Homo sapiens: one gene and its partners. The protein of the gene in region 4 interacts with the protein of the main gene of each other region in a pairwise test. Each region holds a gene or a part of one and is shown on either strand. Other genes may lie near its edges. The genes, in order: ATXN3, RNF11, KIF1B and GPR75-ASB3.

Region 1 (7,000 bases), on a different chromosome or scaffold from region 4:
AATAAGCTCTAGTAATATAATGATTGTGTTGCAATTTGAATCCAACTAAGTTTTTTTTTTCCGTTTCTTTTTTTTTTTTTTTTTGAGACAGGGTCTGACTCTCTCGACCAGGCTGGAGTGCGGTAGTGTGATTATGGCTCACTGTAGTCTCTACCTCCCCAGTTTCAGGTGATCCTTCTTCCTCTGCCTCCCAAGTAGCTGGGACTATAGGCATACACCACCACATCTGGCTAATTTTTGTACTATTTGTAGAGATGAGGTTTTGCCATGTTGCCCAGGCTGGTCTCGAACTCCTGGGTTGAAGCAATCAGCCTGCCTCAGCCTCCCGAAGTGCTAGGAATATACCATACCAGCTAACTAAGTTAATATATTTAAGTATTTCAAAGAGTTGATTCAAGTTTAAACTAATAAACTTCACTAAAATATAAGGTCCAAAATAGAGTCGCCAACAACACAAGGACCACATATTCAATCTAAGCATGAAAATTTAATTCTCATAATGAAATACTACCATATATTCCATACTGCAGGCCTCATTTTTACCTTTGCTCTTTTAGTTGTGCTAATTCTTCTCCAATAAGTTTTGGTCGATGCATCTGTTGGACCCTAATCATCTGCAGGAGTTGGTCAGCTTCGCAATCTGGCAGATCACCCTTAACGACAAATATAGAATAACCTAAAAAAAAAAGGCAAAAATCAACCTAACCAGTTAGTAAAGAGATTCAAAATTGATGTAAAACACTAGTAGATAAAAAGGCAGCACAGAACACTGGAAAAAAATACAAGCTGAGGATTCAGAAAGACTTTAGTCCAAATAATGATTCTTATACTTACTAGTAAAGTCGTCTAAGGTAAGTTACTTAAAGTCTCTGAGCCTCACTTTCTCCATTGTAAGACTGGAAGAGCCGTCTCATTGAGTGACTGTGAGAAATAAATATGTCTGTAAAGGGCCCTACTAATATAGTACTTGACTGAGCAGGCTACTCACTTACTGTTGTCAGAGTGGGTAACAGCAACTGATTTAGAATCAGACTGCCTGCATCTGATCCCAGTTCTCCCACTTCCTAGCTGCATTTGTCTTGGTTTCTACTGTTAAACATATGATACTAGTACCTTCCTGTGATGGTTAATATTATCAACTTGATTGGATTGAAGGCTACAAATTATTGTTTCTGGGTGTGTCTGCGAGGGTGTTGCCAAAGGAGATTAACATTTAAGCCAGTGAACTGGGAGAGGTAGACCCACCCTCAAACTGGGTGGTCACCATCTAATCAGCTGCCAGCTCAGCTAGAATAAAGCAGGCAGAAATAAGAGTGTGGAAGTACTAGACTTGCTGAGCCTTCATCTTTCTCCCATGCTGGATGCTTCCTGCCCTCAAACATCAGACTCCAAGTTCTTCATCTTTTGGACTCTTGAACTTACACCAGTGGTTTGCCAGGGGCTCTCAGGCCTTTTGCCACAGACTGAAGGCTGCACTGTCAGCTTCCCTACTTTTGAGGTTTTGGGACTTGGACTGGCTTCCTGGTTCCTCAGCCTGCAGAGAGCCTATTGTGGGACTTCACCTTGTGATCATACGAGTCGATACTCCTTAATACATTACCCTTCATATATACATCTACCTTATTAGTTCTGTCCCTCTAGAGAACCCTAATACACTTACTCACAGGGCTGCTGTGAGGACACAGATAATGTGTGCAATAACTAGTAACATGGCTAAAACTAATCATCTGCGGAAAGAGCTACCCCCACCCTGACCCACACATGTACACCCCTTGTAACTAAAAATAGGGGCTGGGAAGCCAAATACCTAAAAGCTATTTAAGGTGTCAAACGTGTGGTTTGCATCCCAAAAGAATTACATTAGTCTAGTGTGACTGTGTCTAAATATGATTCCAGAAATCCAGGGTTTCCCCAAGCTAGATGCTACACACAAAAACCAAGGATGGGCTATACCTAAAACAATCTAACTGATTTAAGTTTCTCTATCATTAATTTTTTTTTTTTTTTAATTTGAGATGGAGTCTCACTCTGTCACCCAGGCTGGAGTGCAGTGGTGCAATATTAGCTCACTGCAACCTCTGCCTCCCAGGAGGTTCAAGCGATTCTCCTGCCTCAGCCTCCTGAGTAGCTGGGATTACAGGCACCCACCACCACACCCAGTTAATGTTTGTATTTTTAGGAGAGGCAGGGTTTCACCATGTTGGCTGGGCTGGTCTCGAACTCCTGACCTCAGGTGATCTGCCCACCTCGGCCTCCCAAAGTGCTGGGATTACAGGTGTGAGCCACCGCGCCTAGCACATTTTTCTTAAACTTTGGTGTTTGTTATTGGATATCCTTTGTTGGATTAACACATAATGGGACAAAGATTATAAGAACTATTAATGGAAAACCTCAAAATAGTATGTTGAACATTTTTTATGAGGACAACTGTATTCAGAGTTTAGACGGTTTAATGTGTTTTCTGCCAGTAAAATTGTTTCTGTATTGTATAATAAATATGCCAGCTCACCATGGTATTCTATGAAGAGTGTCTGAAGAATGGATACTCTGCCCTGTTCAGGGGCCATGGTAAAGATCTTGGGTTTTATTCAAGACTTCACATATTTTTTTTTTTTAATTTTTTTTTGAGAGTCTCGTTCTGTCACCCAGGCTGGAGTGCAGTGGTATGATCTTGGCTCGCTGTAACCTCTGCCTCCCGGGTTCAAGTGATTCTCCTATCTCAGCCTCCCGAGTAGCTGGGACTACAGGTGCACAACACCACACCCAGTTAATTTTTGTATTTTTTGGTAGAGACAGGGTTTCACCATGTTGGCCAGGCTGGTCTCATCAACTCCTGACCTCAAGTGATCTGCCCCCTCATCCTCCCAAAGTGCTGGGATTGCAGGCATGAGCCACCAAGCCCGGCCTAAGACTTCAGATTTTATTCTAAGTGTGCTGGGAAGCCACTGAAGGACAAAGAGTGAGGGTGGGACATAACAGGCCTTACACTGGTTAAGAAGCACTCTGGGCTGCTCTGTCGGTATAATATATAGGAACCAGAGTACAAGAGTCACCCTTATGGAAATGGAAAACCTGATGGATAGCATGGATAGAGAGAAAAAAATAAGTCTTTCATAGACATGTTCAGTTTGAAACACTTTTTGGATTTCCAAGTGGAGATGCCAAAGCTAGGAGTTAGTCAAAGCTAGGTGTTCAGGGTAGATGTCAAGACTAAAGATAAAAGTTTGGTAATTATTGACACATAGATCTTATTTACAGATGATATTTAAGATCCATGAAAGGAATCTGAAAAGTGCAGGCAGCAAGTTAGGAAAACCACAGCATGGTGGGCTGAAGGCCAAAGGTAGACAGGGTTTCTAAGAAGGGATATCATCAGGAACCAAGGTTTTAAATATAAAAGAAAAAAGATACAAGTATCTAAAATCAAAGAATTAAAAACCCTATATTCCTAAATGTGAATTCACAATAACTACATAACAAACCCAGCAGCAATAAGCATGCCAGCACTCAAATTGTGATCTCCAAATACCATTACTAAAAGATGGCTAGGCAAGGTGACTCACGCCTGTAATCCCAGCACTTTGGGAGGCTGAGGCAGGTGGATCACTCGAGGCCAGGAATTCGAGACCAACCTGGCCAATATGGTGAAACCCTGTCTCTACTAAAAATACAAAAAAAAAAAAAAAAAATTTAGCCGGGGCCAGGCGCAGTGGCTCATGCCTGTAATCCCAGCACTTTAGGGGGCCGAGGTGGGCGGCTCACCTGAGGTCAGGAGTTGGAGACCAGCCTAACAAACATGGAGAAACCCCTTCCATCTCTACTAAAATACAAAATTAGCCAGGCATGGTGGCACATGCCTGTAAATCCAGCTACTCGGGAGGCTGAGGCAAGAAAATCGCTTGAACCCAGGAGGCAGAAGTTACGGTGAGCCGAGATCACGCCATTGCACTCCAGCCGGAGCAACAAGAGGGAAACTCCATCTCAAAAAAAAAAAAAAAAAATTAGCCGGTCATGGTGGTGCACGCCTGTAATCCCAGCTACTCGGGAGGTTGAGGCAGGAGAATCGCTTGAACCCAGGAGGCAGAGTTCAAGAAAAGGAGAAGGCACACTAGAGACAATCCTAAGGAAAAAATAAAAATGGGGAGGCAGCTGGAGTTTCATGGAATTAAGAGAGGATTTTTATTTTTAATCAATGGAAATAAAAAGCTTATTTTACTGCTTATAGGAATATTACAAAAAAAGGGGGGGGGAACTGATTATATAAGAGAGTGGAGAGATGAAAGCAGGAACATCTTGAGTAGGTGAGAAGAGCTGGGATCCAGCCCACAAGTGAGGGACTGGTTTTGGTTAGAGGTAGGGGACCATTCATCTATTTAAATAGGCTCAAAGCACAGGTGAAGATATAAGCAAATTGATAAATTTGCTGGTAGAAAGAACATAATTTTAATTGCTTCTATGTTCTCAGCAGAATGTAACGGAAAGCCACAAGGAAGGTGTGTAAGGGAGAGGAAAGTGCTTAAAGGTTTAAAGACATAAGCTGTGAAATTAGTCACCTTGGAGGGTGGCACATTATTTTTTATAAACTTCTTGGAGAGTGGTACATAATTTTTTATAAACACCTTGGAGGGTGGTACATCACTAAGAAAACATAGTAGAAATATCAGACAGCACTAAAGGCTCATCTGAATTTTGTGATTATAATAAATTTAAAGTAAAACCTTAGCTAGGTGTGGTAGCACAAGCCTGTAGTCCCAGCTACTCAACAGGCTAAGGCAAGAGAATCACTTGAGCCCAGGAGTTTGGAGCTGCAATGAGCTGTGATTATGCTGCTGCACTCCAGCCTGGGCTTCAGAAATAGGCCTAGTCACTTTGATAGATGGATGGGTGAATGGATGGATAGATCATTTAAGAAAAAAGTAAAACCAATCATCATGTTTTATGTTATTTTTTAGCCACGTCCAGCTACTCTGGTACAGGAATGGACAAGGCCAAGATGTGGTTTAACCAGGGTTGAGATTTTTGTCATTCAAGTATGATGGAGGGAGAGAGGGGAAACACGTTGAAGAATGCAATGGAGTGATTATGATGACGGATTACAGAAAATAAGCAGTAGAAGAAAGGAAGAATGCGTATAAAGGAAATGCTTGGGCCCCACAGTAGGGTTTAAAGAATGGCTGGAATAAAAAAACAGACAAAACATGGTTTAAAGATAGGAGGTGGTAGTTAAAGAGTAATATGCTTGCAATTGAGATTTGACAGTGGTTATGATTACTGGTAATAGCTAAGCAAGAGTAAGTGATTTTGAAACTAAGAGGCAGGTACTGGATTGATTGACGATACAGAAATAATTAAGAATGATAAAAGTAGTTGAAGTAGAGAAAAAGACAACGAGTCAGATCCTAAAATCACTGATGAAAAGAGACTTGTGGATGAGTGCAAAAGGACAAGGGATAGTTTAATCTAGGGGCATGTATTTCTTTTTTTTTTCTTTTCTTTTTTTTTTTGAGACGGAGTCTCGCTCTGTCGCCCAGGCTGGAGGGCAGTGGCGCGATCTCAGCTCACTGCAAGCTCCGCCTCCTGGGTTCACGCCATTCTCCTGCCTCAGCCTCCCGAGTAGCTCGGACTACAGGCGTCCGCCACCACACCCCGGCTAATTTTTTGTTATTTTTAGTAGAGACAGGATTTCACCGTGTTAGCCAGGATGGTCTCGATCTCCTGACATCGTGATCCGCCTGCCTCAGCCTCCCAAAGTGCTGGGATTACAGGCGTGAGCCACCGTGCCCAGCCGTTAGGGGCATGTATTTCAAAGAAACTGGAGTTTATAAGGAAGAACAGTGGCCTAGAAGAGGCAAAGAAGAAAAACATCTATCCCTCCTCTCAGCCGTGTGATATGTGATGTATAAAAGAAAAAGCCATTACTTAGAAGGGCTGCAAAGAAAGCAGCATCCTCAGAAGAGGAAGGGCCAGGTGTCAGTGAGAACTCTAACTGAACAGCGTCACCCAAATCACAGCCTATCACCACGTCAAAACTAAAGATTGTTTCACTGCCACTGCCAGAAAAACAGTTTTATCACACTGTCATCTAATGTGCCTGGTTATTTAACTACTTCGAAAGGTAACATTACAAAATGTTCAGCCGTTACTTACCTTCCTGTTGTAATTGAGCCAAGAAAAGTGCAAGATATGTATCTGATATTAATTCTGGACCCGTCAAGAGAGAATTCAAGTTAAACCACTGGAAAAAAATTGTCAATATTTAAGTTAGTGTATATTATAGGTAATAAGGAAGTTTCACATGTTAAGAATAGATACAACCCATCAAAGCTTAGTAAGATTGTTTAAACTCTGGAAATATTTCAAGTTGAGCTCTTTTCTTTGACTGAATAATATGATCTTAAAAACTACAAGAGAATACTGCAGATTTATCACTATTAAATACTTTTTTTTTTTTTTGAGAAGAGTCTCACTCTGTAACCCAGGCTGGAGTGCAGTGGCATGATCTCGGATCACTGCAACCTCTGCCTCCCAGGTTCAAGTGATTCTCCTGCCTCAGCCTCCCAAGTAGCTGGGACTACAGGTCTGCACCACCACACCCAGCTAATTTTTGTATTTTTAGTTAGAGACAGCACATTTGCCACATTGGCCAGGCTGGTCTCAAACTCCTGACCTCAAATGATCCGCCCGCCTCAGCCTCCCAAAGTTCTGGGATTACAAACATGAGCCACTGCACCTGGCCTCTGCTAAATACTCTTTTTTTTTTTTTTTTTTTTTTTTTAGACAGAGTATTGCTCTGTCGCCCAGGCTGGAGTGCAGTGGCGCGATCTCGGCTCACTGCAAGCTCCGCCTCCCGGGTTCATGCCATCCTCCTGCCTCAGCCTCCCGAGTAGCTGGGACTACAGGCGCACGCCGCCACACCCAGCTATTTTTTTGTATTTTTAGTAGAGACAGGGTTTCACCATGTTAGCCAGGATGGTCTTGATCTCTTGACCTTGTGATCCGC
Region 2 (7,035 bases), on a different chromosome or scaffold from region 4:
GTCGTCTTCTTTTTTGTTGTTGTTGTTGAGATGGAGTTTCACTCTTGTTGCCCAGGCTAGAGTGCAACAGCGCAACCTAGCCTCAACACAACCTCCACCTCCTGGGTTCAAGAGATTCTCCTGCCTCAGCCTCCCAAGTAGCTGGGATTACAGGCATGTGCCACCACACCCGGCTATTTTTGCATTTTTAGTAGAGACGGGGTTTCTCTATGTTGGTCAGGCTGGTCTCAAACTCCTAACCTCAGGTGACCCGCCCACCTCAGCCTCCCAAAGTACTGAGATTACAGGTGTGAGCCACTGTGCCTGGCCACCTGTCTTCTTTCTTGACTGTGTCTCAGCCAAGGTAAATTCTGCACATGAAGAGGGAAGTGATAAGAGGTTGATTGCAGATACAATCAGAATTAGAGATGTGTTGTATTTCTTTTCTTGCCTCAAGTCGTTTGCAAATATGTCTTTTATGTATTACCTTCCTTACTTCAGGTACAGAGTTAGGGATGTATTTCTGTCCTGTACTCATATGGGTTATTAAAAATAGGCTGTTGGTGTCCAGCCCAGTAGCTCACGCCTGTAATCTCAGCACTTTGGTAGGCCTAGGTGGGTGGATCACGAGGTCAGGAGTTAAGACCAGTCTGGCCAACATGGTGAAACCCCATCTCTACTAAAAATACAAAAAATTAGCCAGGTGTGGTGGTGCTTGCCTCTAATCCCAGCTACTCAGGAGGCTGAGGCATGAGAATCGCTTGAACCCAGGTGGCAGAAGTTGCAGTGGGCTGAGACTGCACCACTGCACTCCAGCCTGGGCGATGGAGTAAGACTCCATCTCCAAAAAAAAAGGCTGTTGGGTGGGCATGGTGGCTCACACTTGTAATCTCAGCACTTTGGGAGGCCGAGGTGGGTGGACTGCTTGAGTTCAGGAGTTTGAGACCAGCCTGGGCAATATAGTGAGACCCCGTCTCTACTAAAAATACAAAAAATAGCTGGGTGTGGTGGTATGCACCTGTGGTCCCAGCTATTCAGGAGACTGAGATGGGAGGACTGCTTGACCCGTCTCTACAAAAAATAAAAATTAGCCAGGCAAAGTGGTGCACGCCTATAGTCCCAGCTACTCAGGAGGCTGAGGTGGGAGGATGGCTTGGGCCCGTGAGGTTGAGGCTTCAGTGAGCCGTGACCATGCCACTACATTCAGCCTAGGCAACAGAGTAAGATTATGTCTCAAAGAAAGAAAAAGAATCCCAATCTACATAAGTATTTCTATTAAAACTTTTAAAGATCAAAATTCTGCAACAAAGGTTTCTACTATTACCTAAAAAATATTTTAAGAAAATCAAGTGCTCAGATCTTATGTACCAAGTAACTCACCATCCCATCTCCATCTTCTCAAGTTACCCTATAATTAGCTCTAGAATTAAACTCTGAACAGACTATCTTACTCTTAGTGATGCATACAATCTTAATGCCAAAAAATCAGCCTTTATTAAAGCACATTCAGAATGAGAGGTCAGGCAGAAACAAAGAAAAATCCTGCAACAATGGGGTCACACAAATAACAAATAACTGGTTACTTATTTATAAAAGTCACCTAGGCAAGCTGAACTTCATGGAACACAAAACCAAATTCAGGCTGGGCGCGGTGGCTCACGCTTGTAATCCCAGCACTTTGGGAGGCCGAGGCAGGAGGATCACAAGGTCAGGAGATCAAGACCACGGTGAAACCCCGTCCCTACTAAAAATACAAAAAATTAGCCAGGTGTGGTGGCGGGCACCTGTAGTCCCAGCTACTCGGGACAGGCTGAGGCAGGAGAATGGCGTGAACCCGGGAGGCGGAGCTTGCAGTGAGCTGAGATCGCGCCACTGCACTCCAGCCTGGGTGACACAGCGAGACTTCGTCTCAAACAAACAAACAAAAAAAAAAACAAATTCAAAAAATATATAATGAAATTAACTTTCCCAAAGCTCAACGTACTTTATAAATTAGAAGTGATAGGCCAAACACTAAAGCACAGGATTCTGGGAATGCTTAATAGACACTAACAACCATACAATTGCACACTCTTACAGCAAAATGCTGATCATTACATTCACTAAAGTATAAGTGCGTGCTTTGTGAAAATTGTAGTTCTAGCAATGTGAAAATGAACCAGACTTGAATTCTAAAAGAGCAGATGTGACACTGTCACAAATAATTAAAATTAAAAGGGTAAAGTGTCTTAAGAATGGTGCATGAATAAAGGAGTTCAGATTAAGAAAAGTGTATGTAGGAGAAATCAGAATTCGTGGATTCTTGGCATTTGAACTGGGCCCTGGATATTAGAAATGAGACTGGGAAGGATTAAGGAAGAACATTCTGGGCAATGGATACAGAATGGGCAAAGACAGGAAAGCAGAAGACATACATGGAATACAGCAAACTGCTCAGTATGACTGGAGTATACAGGTTGTATAAAAGAAAGCACAAGGCTATGAAGAGCTGAAAAAGTATATGTAGAGCCAAATCATGACTTTGAATGCTAAGTCAGATATCTTCAGTGGTTAGTCCTAATAAAGAATCATTAAGGGCCGGGCGTGGTGGCTCACGCCTGTAATCCCAGCTCTTACGGAGGCCAAGGTGAGTGGATTACCTGAGGTTAGGAGTTGCACACCAGCCTGAGCAATATGGTGAAACCCCATTTCTATTAAAAATACAAAAATTAGCTGGGTGTGGTGGCGCATGCCTGTAATCCCAGCTACTCGGGAGGCTGAGGCAGGAGAATTGCTCGGACCCGGGAGGCGGAGGCTGCAGTGAGCTGAGGTGGCACCACTGCACTCCAGCCTGGGCAACAGAGTGAAGACTCTGTTTCAAAAAATAATAATAATAATAATAACAATCATTAAGGATTATGAGGCAAGTGATCTGATCCGGGATGAAATTTATCTGGCAACATGGTATAAAATGAATGAGGAGGAGACATCAATTATGTTGCTGTAAGAACTGATGAGGACAATTATGATGGTGACCTTACAAGGTAAGAAGTCACAGTTCTAATTTAGTCTATCATCAAATATTCACTGGGTGTCTACAATATGGAAGGTAACATTCTACTCCACTAAGATATCTTACAAGTTTAATGTATCATTCTCATTCTTGAGGAAACTGATGTGGAGAAACAACTGTTAAAGCAACAAAAGCTAATAAGGCAATATATGATTTCCAGATAAATGTTACAAACACAAAAAAACTGTACATGACAAATCAGCAGAGACAGGAAAAAAATGGTCAGTGAAGGCTTTATTAACAAAGGTGGAGTTAGTTGATCTGCCCCTCAATAAGAAGGCTGAACTTCTTGAGCATAAAGAAGGGGAGGGATAAAACTTCAAAAAGGTAAATTGTTAAAAGCTGAATAATTGTATAATAAGGCCTAGATACGTGAAATAAATTTGGAGATATTTTCCACCCAAATGTTAAACAAAATGCTAATAAAAAAACACAACCCTTTAATTATCTAAATTTAACTTCGTAAGTTATCAGGAAAATGAGGCATTAATATACCATTACAGGCAGGGCACAGTGACTCACATCCGTAATCCCAACACTGGGAGACATGGTGGGAGGATCACTTGAGCCCAGGAGTTCGAAACTAGCCTGGGCAAAGTGAGACTCCATCTCTAAAAAAAACAAGCCCATCCCCCACAAAACATTATAGCATTGCATGCTTAAAAATAAGCAGTACATTCTAGATTTTTTATAAGGAAGGGGGTTATTTTTAGTGCATTCTACAGGATAAACCAATCCTTTTAACAACAAAAGAGGGTTTTTGGTTTTGTTTGTTTTTTGTTTTTGTTTGGTATTTTAATAGAGATGGGGGTCTCACTTTGTTGCCCAGGCTGGTCTCGAATTCCTGGGGTCAAGTGATCCTCCTGCCTCTGCCACCTAAGTGCTGGGATGACAGGTGTGAGCCACTGTGCCCAGCCAAAAAAAAAAAAAAAAAAAGGTATCTTGAAGAAAGCTTTATGCAGACACAATTTGAAATATCCAAAATGTTACATTTTCTTATTTGTCAAAAAAGCTCCCCAAAACAATCTGATAAATTCTTTCCTTTTTCATATTTTACATGTAAGCGGCAGAGCCAGAATTTGAACACAGGACAATCTGACTCTAAAAGCAGAGCTATACTTGCATTCAATGCTATACAAACTTATTTTCTCAGGATTTTAAAATTTCAAATGTATCAATCAAAAAGTATAGGTCGGGGAAGAAGACTGGCGAATCTCAAACTATATAACTACTGCAAAATTGAGAGACACCTATCCTTATTTTTATATATTCAGATTAGAAAATGTAACATGGTTTGTTGTTCAATGAATATTACACTCTTTTAACAAAGTGCCTCCCTCAATTTAGCACATAACAAAGCTCTTGACAGTGACACAGGGGTACCTCAAGCTGTTTTACATATGCCTTTCAGGGCTGGGCTGCCTACCTGGCCTCCCCCTCTCATGGACCTCCCTTCTTCAGCCTTTCCTGGCTTATCCTCCCACTCACTGTCCTTCCAAGATTGCCTTCGCTGGGCAGATTTCCTCTGTATTATTTTTAAACATTTAGGAATAAGGGAGTTGGGTAGAGGGTGCGACAAATTTGTTTCTACTTTCTAATTTGACAAACACCCTAAATCTCTTTGCATCCAATACTTCAAGAATAGGGATTCAAGTACTTTCTTTTTCTCCCCCAAGTACTTTCCCATTACATAAATATCTTGCGGTGATATATATACACGGTAAAAACCCCTAAATCACTTAACACTTAGTGTAAACCAATTGCTGTATTTAATATTACTGGAATTTGACTTTTTAGGATTCCTTAAAACTGATCTACAACAGCTAGACACGGTGGTGTAACCCTGTAGTCCCAGCTACTCAGGAGGCTGAAGCCACAAGATCCTTTGAGACCAGGAAGTGGAGGCTGCAATGCACTATAATTGCACCTGTGAATAGCTACTGCCCTCCAGCCTGGGCAACACAGCAAGACCTCATCTCTAAAGGAAATAAATTTTTTTTAAAACCTGAGCCAGGCAGAGTAGAAGTGCACCTGTAACCCTAGCTACTCAAGAGGCTGAGGCAGGAGTATCCCTTGAGCCCAGGAGTTTGAGACTAGCAACATAATGAGACCCTGTCTCTATTTTTTAAATTTAAAAAATATAAAGGGCAGGCTCAGGGGCTTACGCCTGTAATCCCAGCACTCTGGAAGGCCAAGGTGGGCAGATCACCTGAAGTCAGGAGTTTGAGACCAGCCTGGTCAACATGGCAAAACTCCATCTCTACCAAAAGTACAAAAATCAGTTGGCCTTGGTGGCGCATGCCTGTAGTACCAACTACTCCAGAGGCTGAGGCAGGAGAATCGCTTGAACCCAAGAGGCAGAGCCAAGATGACACCACTGCACTCTAGCTGGGCAACAAGGTGAGACTTGGTCTCAAAAAAGAGAAAACAAAAAAACCCAAACATATATATACAGAGAGAGACCAGCCTGGGTAACACAGGGAGGCCCAGTCACAAAACAAAAAAACAAACAAAAAAAAACCTGATCTACAATATAGAAGCAAAAATGGCACTAGGAATATGCAGAGTTCTTGTAAGCAGTGCAACTATACCTGCCTCAAATACATTAGTTCATTTAAAAGAAATCTATTCATTCGTTCAACCAAATTACTGAATGCCTAACATGTGCCAGGCACTGTTATAAGTACTTAGGAAACACCAATTAAAAAAAAAAATCCCCTTTCCTCCTTTCTACCTAGTGGGAGAAGACAGGTAATAGACAACGCAACTTTCTAACACATGTTGGAATGTAATAAATGGTATTGGGGGGGAAAACAACAGGGTGAGAGGGACTTCCAGGTTATTAGGGCAGGTTGCACTTTCAAACAGGGTGGTCAGAGAAGGTTTAAGGGGGCAGTGAGAAAAGACTTGAAGGAGGTAAGGGAGTCAGTCAGCCATGAAATCTGGGGAAGAGTATTCCAGAATAAGGAGGACAAAGGTCCTAGAATAGCAATGAGGACAGGGAAGCTGGAGGGAAGCCAACAAAGGGGTTAGCTGTAGGTGTCAAGGGACATGCGTGGAAACAAGGGGTACAGATTATGTAGGGTTTATGCGACACTATAAGGAATCTGATTTTTACTTTGAATGAAACAAGGATCCACACAGAGGGTTGGGGAGACTGTCATGCTCAGTTTTACCAAAATAACTGTGGCTGTTGTATTGAGGACAGGCCTTAGCGAGGACAAGGGTGAAAGCAGGGATAACTGTTAGGAGGCTACAAAAGAAACCATGGAAAGAAATATACACTTCCTACAAACTTGGATCATAATGGTGCAGGGATTTACTTTAAGGCAAAAATAAATAAAAACAAATTTGTCAGATGTTAATAGGAAATAACTGTAACTGGCTCTTGTCATTATATGTACATTGTACATATAAAGCAGCAAACAATGACATCTTTTAACTACTCACCTCAAGAGAACATGTTCCTTTACAATCAGCTATTCACTGTTAATTACATATAATTTGTTGAAAAAGTTACTTTTATCAACTGAGAATACTATAAATCTGCTGTGTGAGGTAGCTAACGCCTGTAATCCCAGTCTTTGGGAGGCTGAGGGAGGAGGATCACCTGAAGCCAGGAGTTTGAGGCTGCCAAGTGAGCAATCCAGTCTAACCTGGATGACAGAGGGAGATTCTCAACTCAAATAAATGAATAAATAACCTTGGATTGCTGTTTCTCAGATCATCTAAAATAACCATTCCTAAGACAGATCTTATTTCTTTGGGGGTGGGGGACAATACTTTTTCTCCAAAAGTTTCTTTTTATGCTCCCATGTTTTAAAGTAATTTTCTTCTGATTGATACTGAATTTGTATATTAGTCTGCGTCATTCACTTCAGGAAACTGCAACCATAAAAAACTCCCACTGTCAAAAATATAACATTTCCAAAAAAAGTTCCTTCATGACACCAAAAACCCCTCATCCCTCATCATCACCTAGTTCTTCTGGAAAAGGCAAACAC
Region 3 (7,035 bases), on a different chromosome or scaffold from region 4:
TGCACTCCAGCGTGGGCCACAGAGCAAGACTCCATCTCAAAAAAAAAAAAAATTTAATAAAGATAAAAATAAAAAATAAAAACATCATAGTGATCTCTTGACCTCACAATCCGCCCACCTCAGCCTCCCAAAGTGCTGGGATTACAGGCGTGTGCCACCGCACCCAGCCACCTCTGCCTTCTTTAAAAAACTTTTATCTGGCTGGGCGTCCACACACCTGTAATCCTAGCACTTTGGGAGGCTGAGGCGGGTGGATCACCTGAGGTCAGGAGTTCAAGACCAGCCTGGCCAACATGGTGAAACTCTGTCTCTACTAAAAATACAAAAATTAGCCAGGTGTGGTGGCACATGCCTGTACTCCAAGCTACTTGGGAGGCTGAGGAAGGAGAATCGCTTGAACCTGGGAAGTGGAGGTTGCAGTGAGCCAAGATCATGCCACTGCATCCCAGCCTGTGTGACAGGAGTGAGACTCCATCTCAAAAAAAATAAAATTTTAAAAAGCTTTTATCATTTCTCATCAGATTACTGTAATAAAGATAAAGAATTCTCCCTTCCTCAGTGTATCTCTTCACCATCAATCCATTCTCTTTATTGCTGCCAGAGAAATATATATATTTTTTGAGATGGTGTCTCACTCTGTTGCCCAGGCTGGAGTGCAGTGGCGCGATCTCGGCTCACTGCAGCCTCCGCCACCTGGGTTCAAGCGATTCTCCTGCCTCAGCCTCCTTAGTAGCTGGGACTACAGGCGCACGCCACCACGTTCGGCTAATTTTTGTATTTTTAGTAGACACGGGGTTTCACCATGTTGGCCAGGATGGTCTCAATCTCCTGACCTTGTGATCCACCTGCCTCGGCCTCTCAAAGTGGTGGGATTACAGGCGTGAGCCACCGCCCCTCGCCAGAAATCTTTCTAAAACACAAATACCTGTTTAACATATTTCTGCCTTGCTCCCATCATCCACTCTAAACTCTTCAGTGCAGTATACAAGATTCTTCACTCCACACCTCCTGTTCCAGTCCCACGTGAATTCCCCAAGACTGATCATGCAGGACACCACTGCCTCCCTCCTGATCACGCAGGACACCGCTGCCTCCCTCCTGATCACGCAAGACACCGCTGCCTCCCTCCTGATCACGCAGGACACCACTGCCTCCCTCCTGATCACGCAGGTGTCGACACTGCTGCCTCCCTCCTGCGCATCCTTTCAAGGTCAGCTCATGAGCTCCCCACCATAGACACTTCTCCTCTGACTCCCATAGCATTTGAAACACACATCTCTATTATATGCTTGTGACCTAATATTCTGCAACCTTTATATTTTTTAATTTTTTAATTTTTTATTATTTTATTTTATTTTTTGAGATGGAGTGTCACTCTGTCGCTCAGGCTGGAGCACAGTGGAGCTATCTCGGCTCACTGCAATCTCCGCCTCCTGGGTTCAAGCAATTCTCCTGCCTCAGCCTCCTGAGTAGCTGGGATTACAGGCGCTCGCCACCACGCCTGGCTAATTTTTGTATTTTTAGTAGAGACAGGGTTTCACCATGTTGGCCAGGCTGGTCTCGAACTCCAGACCTCAGGTAATCCACCTGCCTCAGCCCTGCAAAGTGCTGGGATTACAGGTGTGAGCCACCATGCCTGGCCTAATTTTTGTTTTTGTAGAGACAAGGTCTCACTATGTTAGCCTGGGCTTGTCTTTAACTCCTGGGCTCAAGCAATCCCTTTGCTTCAGCCTCCCAAAGTGGTGGGATAATAGGCATCAGGCACTGTGCCTGGCCCTGTAAGCTTGTTGAGGGTAGGAACTGCGTCTTTTTATTTCTACATTCACAGTATTATCACAGGCCTTCAAACACCTCGAACAAAGGTGTTGAAAATGAATAAACCGAGAGGCTAGTTTGTGGAGCCTTGTGGGAAGACGTTCAGCAAAGAGGAAGGGATTCACACCTTGGTAGCCAGCTCTTTCTCTCGGTCCACCAGGCTTTCGATGTCTCCTGAATCATAGCCACTGCTCTCGCTAGGTGTGATGGCGCTTTCAAAGGTAGTGGTTGAGATCTGAGAGGAGATACTGGTGGAGGTGCTGAGGGTCCCACTGCTGAGGCTGGGGGATAACGAGTCGCTCAGGGATTTGGGGATGCTGTCACCAAGTCTCTCACGCAGCAGCAAAAAGTGGCGGGTTTTTTCCACCTGAGAAGATCAATACTACTGCTATAGCAAACACAAAGCTCGTTAAGACCTCAGGAGAGAAAAGTGAAAAGCTATGATCACATGCAGCAGCGGGGAGGAAGACTGATACTTTGGCAATCTTGTCCGAGAGTTCTTGCATCTGAACAACCCTGCCCCTGGATACCTCATGTAGGAGCTCCAGCTTCTCCAGCTCCCACTGGTGCTCAAGGATGAGGCTGTCTCCACGGGGCCGCCAGCCTGCTAAGTTCTCTTCTCCCCGCACATATGCCACTGACGTATCTAAGATTTTTCTTCTCCTTCTCTGCATACCTAAGACAAGAGGAAACAAGTTTTTGTTTCAGAAAAAAAATTCAATTCCAAGTTTAGGTCAAAACGAATTAATAATTCTTTTTTTTTTTTTTTTGAGATGGAGTCTCGCTCTGTTGCCCAGGCTGGAGTGCAGTGGCGTGATCTCAGCCCACTGCAAGCTCCGCCTCCTGGGTTCATGCCATTCTCCTGCCTCAGCCTCCCGAGTAGCTGAGACTACAGGTGCCCGCCACCATGCCCAGCTAATTTTTTGTATTTTTAGTAGAGACCGGGTTTCACTGTGTTAGCCAGGATGGTCTCGATCTCCTGACCTCGTGATCCACCTGCCTCAGCCTCCCAAAGTGCTGGAATTACAGGCGTGAGCCACCGCGCCTGGCCACGAATTAATAATTCTTATACGTAGCAAACTAAGACAGTTTGGTCTGAAGATATATGGGATTTTGTTTAAATAGCAAAGCAACTGAACGTTTTTAAAAACTGAGTTTTACATTCTTTGATAATTATGAAGACTGGGATGCAATTTAAGAAAATGATAAAATTATGATGTTAGGTGAAAATGCAGAAATATTAAATAGTCTGTAGTAGTCTATACACTATGGGGCCGGGCGTGATGGCTCACGCCTGTAATCCCAGCACTTTGGGAGGCTGAGGTGGGCTATCATCTGAGGTCAGGAGTTCGAGACCAGCCTGGCCAACATAGTGAAACCCCATCTCTACTAAAAATACAAAAATTAGCTGGGCATGGTGGTGGGTGCTTGCAAACCCAGCTACTCAGGAGGCTGAGGCAGGAGAATCACTTGAACCCAGGAGGCAGAGGTTGCAGTGAGCCAAGATGGCGCCACCACACTCCAGCCTGGGTGACACAGCGAGACTCTGTCTCAAAAAAAAAAAAAAAAAAAAAAGATCCTGTCCCTAAAAATAAAAATTTTTAAAAAGACGGAAGGGAATACACACACACATACACACACTCAGTAGCTCACTGGCTGACAGATGACAGAGAACTTTAGCCTCTATTATTTCCTGTTAATTTTTTTTAGTATTATGCTGGTTTTACATATTAAATACATGAATTTATATTAATTAAAAAAATTCCTCAAGAAACTATCTGGATAGTATAATAATTAGGTGCTACTTGGATTCATACTCAAAGTCTTCTTTACTTATCTAAGTCTTGCCTGTGGGCCCTGACTTGTTTTCCATGTATATTCTGTAAAATGACTCAAACTCACATTAATCAAATGCTATTAGAAAACCTTAACTTTTGTTCATGTTTCGGTTTACAAACATAGAAATGCTAAGTGCTGCTTAACTCCGCCTAGCTAGAGGAACAAGAGCAGTTTAAAAACACATTAAAAAGAATACAGAACAAATCTGACTTAATAATTTGATTTTTTTTTCTTTTTCTTTTTTGAGACTGAGTCTCACTCTGTCACCTAGGCTGCAGTGCAGTGGCACAATCTCGGCTCACTGTAACCTCTGCCTCCCAGGTTCAAGCAATTCTCATGCCTCAGCCTCCTGAGTAGCTGGGATTACAGGCACGCGCCACCACACCTGGCTAATTTTTGTATTTTTGGTAGAAAGGGGGGCTTCACCATGTTGGTCAGGCTGCTCTTGAACTCCTGGACTCAGGTGATCCACCCGCCTTGGCCTCCCAAAGCGCTGGGATTACAGGTGTGTGCCACCGTGCCCAGCCTAAATACAGGATACTTGAAACATACACAAAGATAACTATCACCTCCTCAATCCACAAGAGCTTACCTGGACTACCTGTGTCTGACATTTTGCATAAGCTGAGTTCGTAAATGCCAGTGACTCGATTCCTATTTGAAGAAAATAAAACAATTGTTTAATCTCTTAAAGCACAAAAACAGGAAAATTTCAATTTCTGCTACTTAAAATAGTGTCTTCTCTGCAGGGACTCAAATATAATTCCAGGCATTTCTTATTTGTCACCGCTCTTTTCTTATTTTGAACCTAAGTAGCATACCTTTTCCTAGAGGAGTCCGCTTTCATCTCAATTTAATTTTTTTATAGATAGGGTTTCCCTGTGTCACCCAGGCTGGAGTGCAGTGATGTAATCACAACTTACTGCAGCCTCGAACTCCTGGACTAATGTGATCCTTCTGCCTCAGCCTCCTGAGTAGTTGGGACTTCAGGCATACACCACTATACCCAGCTAATTTTTAAGTTTTTTTGTAGAGATAGGGTCTCCTTATGTTGCCCAGGCTGGTCTTGAACTCCTGGCCTCAAGTGATCCTTCCACCTTGGCATCAAAAAGTGCTGAGATTATAGGCATAAGCCACCATGCCCCACCTCATCTCTATCTTTTAAACACTTTATTTCAATAGGGTGAATAAAATTGAATGATAAACTAGAAAATTTAAAATATAAATGTGAAAACTAAAAATTTGTCTTTTCTTACTATAAGAGAGACGATATGAGGGAAACAATGACTAGAATGAAATGATAATCAACAACTTCTGGGGATTGTGAGTAGTAGGAGGTATAATACCTTCTATTGTATTAGTAACACTTATTTTTAAGCTGGGCGGTGATACACAGGTATTCATTGTATTGTTTCTTTCTTTTTTTTTTTTTTCCTTTTTCTTTTCTTTTTTTTAAATTTTGAGACAGGGTCTCACTGTTTCACCCAGGCTGGAGTGCAGTGGCTCTATCATGGCTCACTGCAACCTCAACCTCCCAAGCTCAAGTGATCCTCCCACCTCAGCCTCCTGAGTAGCTGGGACTACAGGTGTGTGTCACCACACCTGGGTAATTTTAAAATTTTCTGTGGAGATGGGGTCTGTGTTGCCCAGGCTGGTCTCAAACTCCTAGGCTTAAGCAATTCTCTGTCCTCAGCCTCCCAACGTGCTGGGATTACAGACATGAGCCACTGTGTATGGCCTTCACTGTATTATTCCTGACATATTTTGTATGCCTTAAATATGCATAACAAATCTTAAAAAGAAGAAAATTTCAATGGTACTCTGTTAGAAATAATGATGATGACATTTAAAAGTCTTTGCAAATTTAGTCTTTGCAAAATTGTTTTAGACGTGTTCACAATGTAATATTCCTTCCTTCCCTCATAACTCGTCCATCCATCAACATTTTATTAAATGTCAGCATGCAAGTCAGTACATTCCAGGTGTCAGTTACCAAAATGGTTCATAAACTGTAAACTAACCGTGAGACAGTAAGCCGAGAATACTTAAGGACTAATGATTCTGTTGTACTGAACAAACACACTGGAAGCTAACTTGTGTGAAAAACTTACGAATCTGGTGACTTTGAGTAGCCGCTGCCAAAGAGGCTACGCAGAGAGCGTGGTGGTGAGATCTTGGCATCTCGGGAGTAGAAGACCATGCACACATCCTTGGTGATGACAGCCGGCTGGATGCAATGATCCAGCTGAAAGCAGACAGGGTAGGTGCTGATGAAGTGCAGGCAGAGTACTGTGACTAGAGTCTATACACGAACGTATTTGGAAAGCGAGTCCCAGTTGTGAGAACTGAAGGATTTTAGCTCCACCAATTATTTCAACAGCCACCCAATGGATAATATGTGCAAGAGTAGGTAGTACTCCTTAGAGATGCATTTATTTTTATCTGAGGTAAATGTTGTTTCTCCTGATAGGTGAGGAAACTGAGGCAAAGAGAGTTTCTCCAAGGACATAGAGGAAGTAAGTGGCAGCACAGGGATTTGAACCGACAGGCTGGGTCTTGGGTCTGGGCTATTAACCACTATTACACTCTGTCCACAACTACAAAAACAAGAGGTGACATTTTCTTAAAAATCACACATTCTTCAAACAATGGTGATTAGGCTACTAAAGCTGAAGCTGCAATGAGTCATGTGATTTTTTGAGTAAACAGAACCCAGGAATAGAGTCTAATATAATCAGAAGAGTTAGCAATGTATAATAAAATGAAAAACTTAAGGATGTGGAGGAAGAAAGAGGACAAAACAAGTGGAATCTTCGCTGACCACTTCCTGCTGTAACCTGCACACTGTTCAGGGCTGACTGTTGGCATCAACTGAAGTTCCAAGTCTCCTCACCTCTAGGTAGGCCGACAAGGTCATGTAGATCTTTTCTCCATAGGGTGTCACTCGGTTCAGAAGAAGGGAGTTATGCAGAGAGCTATCCCACACAGCCTCAAAGCGGTAGAAGGTCCTAAGGTCAGAAAGACAAGAGGGAATCATCCAAAAGAAGCTAAAGTCACGTTAGTCCAGGTACTGCCACTGTCAATCATCCTAAAGAACCATACGCCAACCAACAGACACTTTCAGTTTATCAAACTCTAATAACAGAGAGGAACCCTTATCTCCTAGGAGGAAAAGATAGGTCCCCATCCTCTTGCTCCCAACCCCACCCATCATTAAGGAACACTTAGTTGTGCTTTTTTTTTTTTTTTTTTGAGACAGAATTTTGCTCTGTTGCCCATACTGGAGTGCAGTGGCACAATCTCGGATCACTGCAACCTCTGCCTCCCGGGTTCAAGTGATTCTCCTGCCTCAGCCTTCCGAGTAGCTGGGATTACAGGCGC
Region 4 (7,035 bases):
AATCGCTTGAACCTGGGAGGCGGAGGTTGCAGTGAGCCGAGATTGTGCCACCGCACTCCATCCTGGGCAACAAGCATGAGACTCCATCTTAAAAAAAAGAAAAGGGAAAAAGGGAAGGAGGGAGGGAGAAAGGGAAAGAAGGAGGGAGTAGGTAGGCAAATCAGTCTAAAAGGTGAACTTAAAAACAAAATAATTCGAGGCTGCCCCTGGGTGTGGCAAGAAAAAAATTTAGAAGAAAAAGAAAACAAAAGAAAATCTATGCCTATTTAAATCTCAAAAATAGAAATAACTGATCAATACTGAAAGGTAACAGTTATAAGATAAGGTTGAGCAGAGTTCTAATTGAATATCTATTCTGTCTTCTCTATACCTCTCATGACCCCTGTATTTGGGGAGAGCTGAGGGAGGAAACTATAAATTAAATGCCTTTCAGCTGGATGTGGTTTCTCATGCCTGTAATCCTAGCACTTTGGGAGGCCGAGGTGGGTGGATTACTTGAGGCCAGGAATTCAAGACCAGCCTGGCTATCATGGTGAAACCCTGTCTCTACCAAAAATACAAAAATTAGCCAGGAGTGGTGGCGGGCACCTGTAATCCCAGCTACTCTGGAGGCTGAGGCAAGACAATCGCTTGAACCCGGGAAGCGGAGGTTGCAGCGATCTGAGATCATGCCACTGCACTTTAGCCTGGGTGACAGAGTAAGACTCTGTTTCTACAAAAAAAAAAAAAGACTTTTACGCAAAGGAACAAAGTACCTTCCAATCTGCAATAATAACTCTTGAATATAACAATTTATAAAGATAGGTGTTGTATATTGATGCTCATCTTGTGTGTCTAACATTTAAAAACCTAGTGAGTTCAAATACTAACTGTATACTGAAAATATTTTTACAATAAAATATGAGTTCACAGTTGTTATGCTAGGAATCTCAGAGCATATAGTAAAATTAGTTTCAGGTATAGAAATACTTAAATCTATTTTTTCTTTCTGCCCATTTCCACTTTAAGATTAATGGGAGAGAAATAAAATGATTAGTTTGAAAATAGATTATCTTGAGAATTTTTCTACCATAATAATAAATAAAGACAAAAAAGAAGTCATTTCTAAATAGTTACTTGAATACTGTCAGGTGGTTAGTAAACTCTTCTCACACAGAAGGAAAACATAAATCAAAACATTCCCAGTCTTATCTGTAAACCTTGTTAAGCAATAATAAATATTGCCCAATGCATGACAGGAGTCCACACTGTTTTCCACAGAACACCGAGATGATTACCGCAGTGCCTTCTCTCCTGGGAACAGTGCACCTCTACCATAGATGCAGTCCTCTTCACTAGGCTTCTTGAATAAGATCATTCAGAAACAATTCACTTTTGGGCCAGTTGGGGTGGCTCATGCCTGTAATCCCAGCACTTCGGGAGGCCGAGGCAGGCAGATCACCTGAGGTCAGGAGTTCAAGACAAGTTCAAGACCTGTCTCTACTAAAAAATACAAAAATGAGCTGGGCATGGTGGCACACGCCTGTAATCCCAGCTACTCAGGAGGCTGAGGCAGGAGAATCACTTGAGCCCGGGAGGCGCAGGTTGCAGTGAGCAGAGATCATGCCACTGCACTCCAGCCTGGGCAACAGAGCAAGACTCCCTCTCAGGAAAAAAATAAATAAATAAATAATTCACTTTTAACAAGCAAAAATATATTTCTTTTCTTTCTTTCTTTCTCTTTTTTTCATTTTTTTGAGATGACATCTCGCTCTTGTCACCCAGGCTGGAGTGCAATGGCACGATCTCAGCTCACTGCAACCTGTCTCCCAGGTTCAAGCGATTCTCTTGCCTCAACCTCCCGAGTAGCTGGGATTACAGGTGCTTGCCACCATGCCTTGCTAATTTTTGTGTTTTTAGTAGAGACGGGGTTTCATCATGTTGGCCAGGCTGGTCTCGAACTCCTGACCCTCAGGTGATCCACCCGCCTCAGCCTCCCAAAGTGCTGGGATTACAGGTGTGAGCCACCATGCCCGGCCCAAATATATTTCTTTTCAAAAGAATTGTAAACCTACTCAACTGACATAAAACATGTCTATAATAAGAAATGGCAATAATCATAATACTATATTCTTAGTTGACTGTCCTATGAAAGAAAAGTACCTAATACCTGTGTGAGTGTTTTTGGTAAAGACAGAGTTATCACCTTTTCTGCCTTAAGAATATATATATTTCTGGCTAAGCACAGTGGCTCATGCCTGTAATCCCAGCACTTTGGGAGGCCGAGGCAGGCGGATCACCTAAGGTCAGGAGTTGAAGACCAGCCTGACCAACACAGAGAAACCCTGTCTCTAATAAAAATACAAAAATTAGCCGGGCATGGTGGCATGCGCCTGTAATCCCAGCTACTTGGGAGGCTGAGACAGGAGAATCACTTGAACCCGGGAGGTGGAGGTTGCGGTGAGCCGAGGTCATGCCATTGCACTCCAGCCTGGGCAACAAGAGTGAAACTCCGTCTCAAAAAAAAAAAAAAAAAAAAAAAAAAAAAAAGAATATATACATTTCCTTTAGAGACAGGGTCTTGCTGTGTTGCCCAGGCTGGACTCATAATCCCGGGCTCAAGTGATCCTCCTGCCTCAGCCTCCCAAGTAGCTAGGACTACAGGTGCATGCCACTGCACCCAGCTAACAATATATTATTTATTCAAATCAACCTGCTACCAACAAGGTGTAGTGTTCCCGATTTCAACACTTCAAAAAATCAAAATTTACAATTCAATTAATAAAAATAACACCTCAGCAAAAATCATATTTTCACATTCTTTAAAAAAAATCCAGTCAATACCTTATTTTGAAGTCACATAACACTGACTCAAATCATGATAATCGGTTGACTTTCTACTTTAACACAGTAGCTTCATTCCTGGCATCTATTTAAAGGCTCGGTACAAAAGACTGAGGCAAAGAGCAGGGTAAAAAATCTAAAACTTTCACATCAAATCTTAAGATGTCAACAAACTACAAAGCAAATCAACAGATACTGACACATCAGATGAAAGAAAACCATAACTGCCAACTTTTCAGTTGAATCTTGTAGGTTTTGATCCGCCACTGATCTCAAGTTAGAATAAAGTCCATTACTATCAGAAACAAAAACTGTTTACATAAGATCCTATAGCCTCCATGACTTTAAACGGAGGGGACTGGAATCTGCTTGGCTGAAGTGCTGTCATATTCCTGCACTAAGTCATTAGTGGTGTGATAATGCATGGCAATATATGAATTGGCAAATCCAAAAGAGTTTACTGGCTGTAAGTTACATGGGCTGCTCTCCTCCTGGGAAGGGCTGCTGTTATAGATGCTGTAGTAAGGTTCAATCCGAGTGTTGATGGGGGTCGAGCTGCTCTGACCACAGTGTTGATGTCCAGCAGAGATCTTGGGACTCACCATACTTTCTTTTGAATGACTTGGGCCACAAGCCTGGTCCACAAATTTCTTCTGTGGCTTTGGAGATAACATGTAGGCAGAGTTTGTTTCATGATGGGAGGATTTGTTTCTGTTGACTTCGAGGTTCCCTTTTCCCATGGCTCGAAGTCGAGTCTTTTGTTTGCAGCAGAAAAAACCCAGGCCTATGTATTGGAGGCACCAGAGCACTTTCCTTCTCAGCCCTGCACTGTTCCGAGAATATATAAAAGGGTTTAATCCTGACTTGAAAAATATAAGAGTAAATCCAAACAATTCAAACTGGTAAAGAATGAAGCTCCCATTGCTGGAGAGAACCACCTGTACCAAGGAAATCCCCAGTGGAAGACAGCACACCAGGACTGACAGCACAATGATCACACAGGTGACCACGGCTTTGGAATCCTTGGCAGTGGAGAGGTTGATGGCTGATACGAGCTGGAGTCGGCTTGCTGCAGGGGTGACCAGTTGGTTGGGACTCTTGGTATATCCACGGGTCTGAACGTGCTGCAGTTTGTTGTAATTCTGGTTCCTATACAGAGCCGGCATGGCACACTGGATGGGATCTCCACCTCCCTGCACAGGGACCCCCATGAAAGGCTGTGGTCTGGAAGCATCGACTGTGATTACAGGGGGGCACTTTCTGACTTGAGCGTTCTTCCGCAGGGTCTGAGCAATCATGATGTAAGAGACAGAGACCACAGCAACACAGAAGGTGAAGTCGACCACATAGAGAGACAAAATGGCTTTCCCTTTTCCAGCAATCAGACTGGACATGGGAAGACAGAGGTGGGACTTGCTGGTTTTCAAGGTAGCCAAGGTGGCAAGGGTGAAACTGGTGGCCCAGAGAAGCAGGGTGAGGAGTACGGTGCAGGGAAAGGAGGCCGTGCGATTAGGCTGTTTCCCCAACACCATCCGGAGCCGGTGCAGGGCGATCACTGCCACTGTCTTCAGAGACATGATGATGAAGCCTGAACTGGTGAGATGGAAAGTGAAGCAGAAAGCATCCGGGATACTACTGGCTGAGCTGAAGAATAACACAAAGGTGAACATGGGGGCTGTCACTCCACAAATGAAGAGGTCACAGAAGGACAGGTTCAGGATCATGAAATCAAAGTTGGTTCTGAATTTCCTGAAGGCTGGATCGAAGAAGGACAAGAAGACAATGAAGTTGCCATAGGAACCCAGGCAGAAGATGACCGCCAGTAGAAAAGTACAGGTCACCAAGGTGGCTGTGTGGATGAGATCCTGAAGACCCTCCTGGAGAGAGGTGCTGTTTCCTTCCTGTGAGTGAGGCACATGGAGCGAGGTGGCATTGGGGGCATCCTGAAGGTGGCCTGTTGAGTTCATTTTCGGAGAGAAATGTCTCCTTCTTCTGCTCCCCAAAAATACTCAGTGAGTCAGGGCCTCAGCTCACAGATGAGCAATATGTGACAAAAGAGGCCCAAGACAGATAAGCCTACACACAAAAATGCACACCCAGAAACAGAAAGGGATTAATGTAGAAACAGAAAGGAATTCATACAGTGATCTCATTATTAGTAGTAGTATTAGTACTAGTATCTCTCACCTTGAGAGAAAAATTTATTCATTTATTAGCAATGGGGTCTTACCATGTTGCCCAGGCTGGACTTGAACTCCTGTGCTCAAGCAGTCCTCCTGGCTTAGCTTCCCAAGTAGCTGGGACTACAGGCATGCACCACCAAACCCAGCTCTCTCTCTCTCTTTTTTTTTTTTAACAAAACACTAGAATTTTTCAGCTCTGATTTGGTGCATAGACAGCATTTCTCCTCACAAAGGCCAACACAGAAAAAGATACAAATACATTCATCCAGCTAATATTTAGTTTTATGACACAGAGGTTTTCAAACAAGTTTAAGTGTCACCTGAAGAGCATGTTAAAAAGTTTAAGTTATCACTTGGAGAGCAGATTTCTTGGCCTCGCCCCTTGTGATTCTGTTTGAGGGGTGTGCAGATGTTACTTTTAGAAACACTTCTGTGTCAGGCACTGAAGATACACAAGAACGTAATCTCTCCACCAAAGAGATGACAATCTAGTTGGAGATCAATCTAACTATGTAATAATTACAGCCTAATAAGGTTGCAGGGTGCTATGAGAGCATGGAAGGGGGGAACCTACTCCAACATGGAAAGGGAGCTGGGAAAGGATAAAGGGAGCTTTAGCAAGCACAGGCCAGCTGGATGAAAGGTCGGGGGTATGGAGTGGGGACAGACAGGCTAAGAGAAGTGGGGGTAGGTCTTTGCAGCAGAAGCACTGCGGCAAAAAACTGCATGTGCTTGAAATATAGGCTGGAGGGTATTGTTGATGCATAATGTGGCCCTTCACATAATTCCCATAAATCATTAACAAACCCTGTTTCGTTCCCTATGAAGAATCCTTTATTTCCCAGTATTTATAATTTTTCCCCCAGCTTGCAATTTCTTGGCCAATTAACTACATATTCTCCTTTGGAAAAAAACCTTGTGTAGGACTACATGTGAGACGGAAAACTGGAAGTAACCAAGGATGTTGGAATTATATTAGAAATTTACAAGGTGCAAAGCACCACATTGTAAAGTCTAAACTGCTATATAAATGTGAGTTACCATTATCCCAACAAGAATATCCTGATGGTGAAGCAGGAGGCATGCACCCATTCCTGCATTCGTTCGCTCAATTTATATTAATTATGTGCATACCATATGCCAGCATTACGCCAGGTGCTAGGTGCTACGATGAGTAAGGCAGTCTCTACTTTAAAAGAATAACTTCTTGCTCCTTTTTCCTAACTTTTTTTTTTCTATTTTGCAATGAGACTTAATGTGCACTCACACAAATCTACATTGTCCCAAATCCCAAAGTCCTGCAAGGGTTGGTGCCCAACCTGCTCCCAACAGATGCTTCTGGTGGGACCGACTAAGCTGTTCCTTGGAGACAGCACTATGTTCTTGACAACCAAAAAGGGTTTGCCTTAATCTAGAATTTTAGGAACAATAAGTGGCACTGCAGAGGTCCAGGGCTGATGTTCAGTGTACTTAACCACCAGCTCAAGCTGGATCCCAGAAGCCTCCAGCTGTTAACCCTTTAGTTGCCAGATCAAGGGGGTACAGCGGAATGAACCAGGTCAGTCAGGGATTACCTGGGGCTCCAATTAGCAGCTATGGACTACCCAATACAGAAGTCTCTCCACATTTAACAACAGATACAGCCATGCCAGTGACTATCAGACATATACCAGTCCTGGGAAATCCATATAATTGACTGGTGTCCTTAATCAAGGAAAAAGATAACTTAATCTATATTCTTAACATTCATATGGTACAGATCAGGACGATATGGTGAATTTGTCCACTGGAAAGTGAGACCAACTTTTCTATACTTTCCTTTCAAATAAAAGTTCCATAAGAGAAGAAAATCCTGAACTTTTGTTTCTTGATGGTTAGAATTTTTTAAAAATAGTACCAGATAGCTCTATTTCCACTTAAAGGCTGTATATTTGTTTCTGAACACTTTTGATACCTATATAATGAGAAAGACAATTTTTTTTTTTTTTTTTTTTTTTTTTTTGAGACGGAGTCTCGCTCTGTCGCCCAG

Evidence for each region.
Region 1: the proteins of GPR75-ASB3 (region 4) and ATXN3 interact in binary tests that used the Homo sapiens proteins (3 or more experiments, as listed by UniProt).
Region 2: the proteins of GPR75-ASB3 (region 4) and RNF11 interact in binary tests that used the Homo sapiens proteins (3 or more experiments, as listed by UniProt).
Region 3: the proteins of GPR75-ASB3 (region 4) and KIF1B interact in binary tests that used the Homo sapiens proteins (3 or more experiments, as listed by UniProt).

Annotation. Positions count from the first base shown.
Region 1 is NC_000014.9:92,082,583-92,089,582, forward strand, and holds part of ATXN3 (ataxin-3 reference isoform), read right to left. Parts: intron 6,236-7,000; coding exon 6,148-6,235; intron 922-6,147; exon of another isoform or gene 831-921; intron 677-830; coding exon 544-676; intron 1-543. UniProt on the Homo sapiens protein: Deubiquitinating enzyme involved in protein homeostasis maintenance, transcription, cytoskeleton regulation, myogenesis and degradation of misfolded chaperone substrates.
Region 2 is NC_000001.11:51,239,258-51,246,292, reverse strand, and holds part of RNF11 (RING finger protein 11), read right to left. Parts: intron 1-7,035. UniProt on the Homo sapiens protein: Essential component of a ubiquitin-editing protein complex, comprising also TNFAIP3, ITCH and TAX1BP1, that ensures the transient nature of inflammatory signaling pathways. Promotes the association of TNFAIP3 to RIPK1 after TNF stimulation.
Region 3 is NC_000001.11:10,360,556-10,367,590, reverse strand, and holds part of KIF1B (kinesin-like protein KIF1B), read right to left. Parts: intron 6,663-7,035; coding exon 6,548-6,662; intron 5,900-6,547; coding exon 5,766-5,899; intron 4,309-5,765; coding exon 4,247-4,308; intron 2,492-4,246; coding exon 2,346-2,491; intron 2,183-2,345; coding exon 1,943-2,182; intron 1-1,942. UniProt on the Homo sapiens protein: Has a plus-end-directed microtubule motor activity and functions as a motor for transport of vesicles and organelles along microtubules.
Region 4 is NC_000002.12:53,849,967-53,857,001, forward strand, and holds part of GPR75-ASB3 (GPR75-ASB3 protein), read right to left. Parts: intron 4,900-7,035; exon of another isoform or gene 4,791-4,899; coding exon of another isoform or gene 3,168-4,790; exon of another isoform or gene 2,946-3,167; intron 1-2,945. Other genes in the region: GPR75 (probable G-protein coupled receptor 75), read right to left, coding at 3,168-4,790. UniProt on the Homo sapiens protein: Probable substrate-recognition component of a SCF-like ECS (Elongin-Cullin-SOCS-box protein) E3 ubiquitin-protein ligase complex which mediates the ubiquitination and subsequent proteasomal degradation of target proteins. Recognizes TNFRSF1B.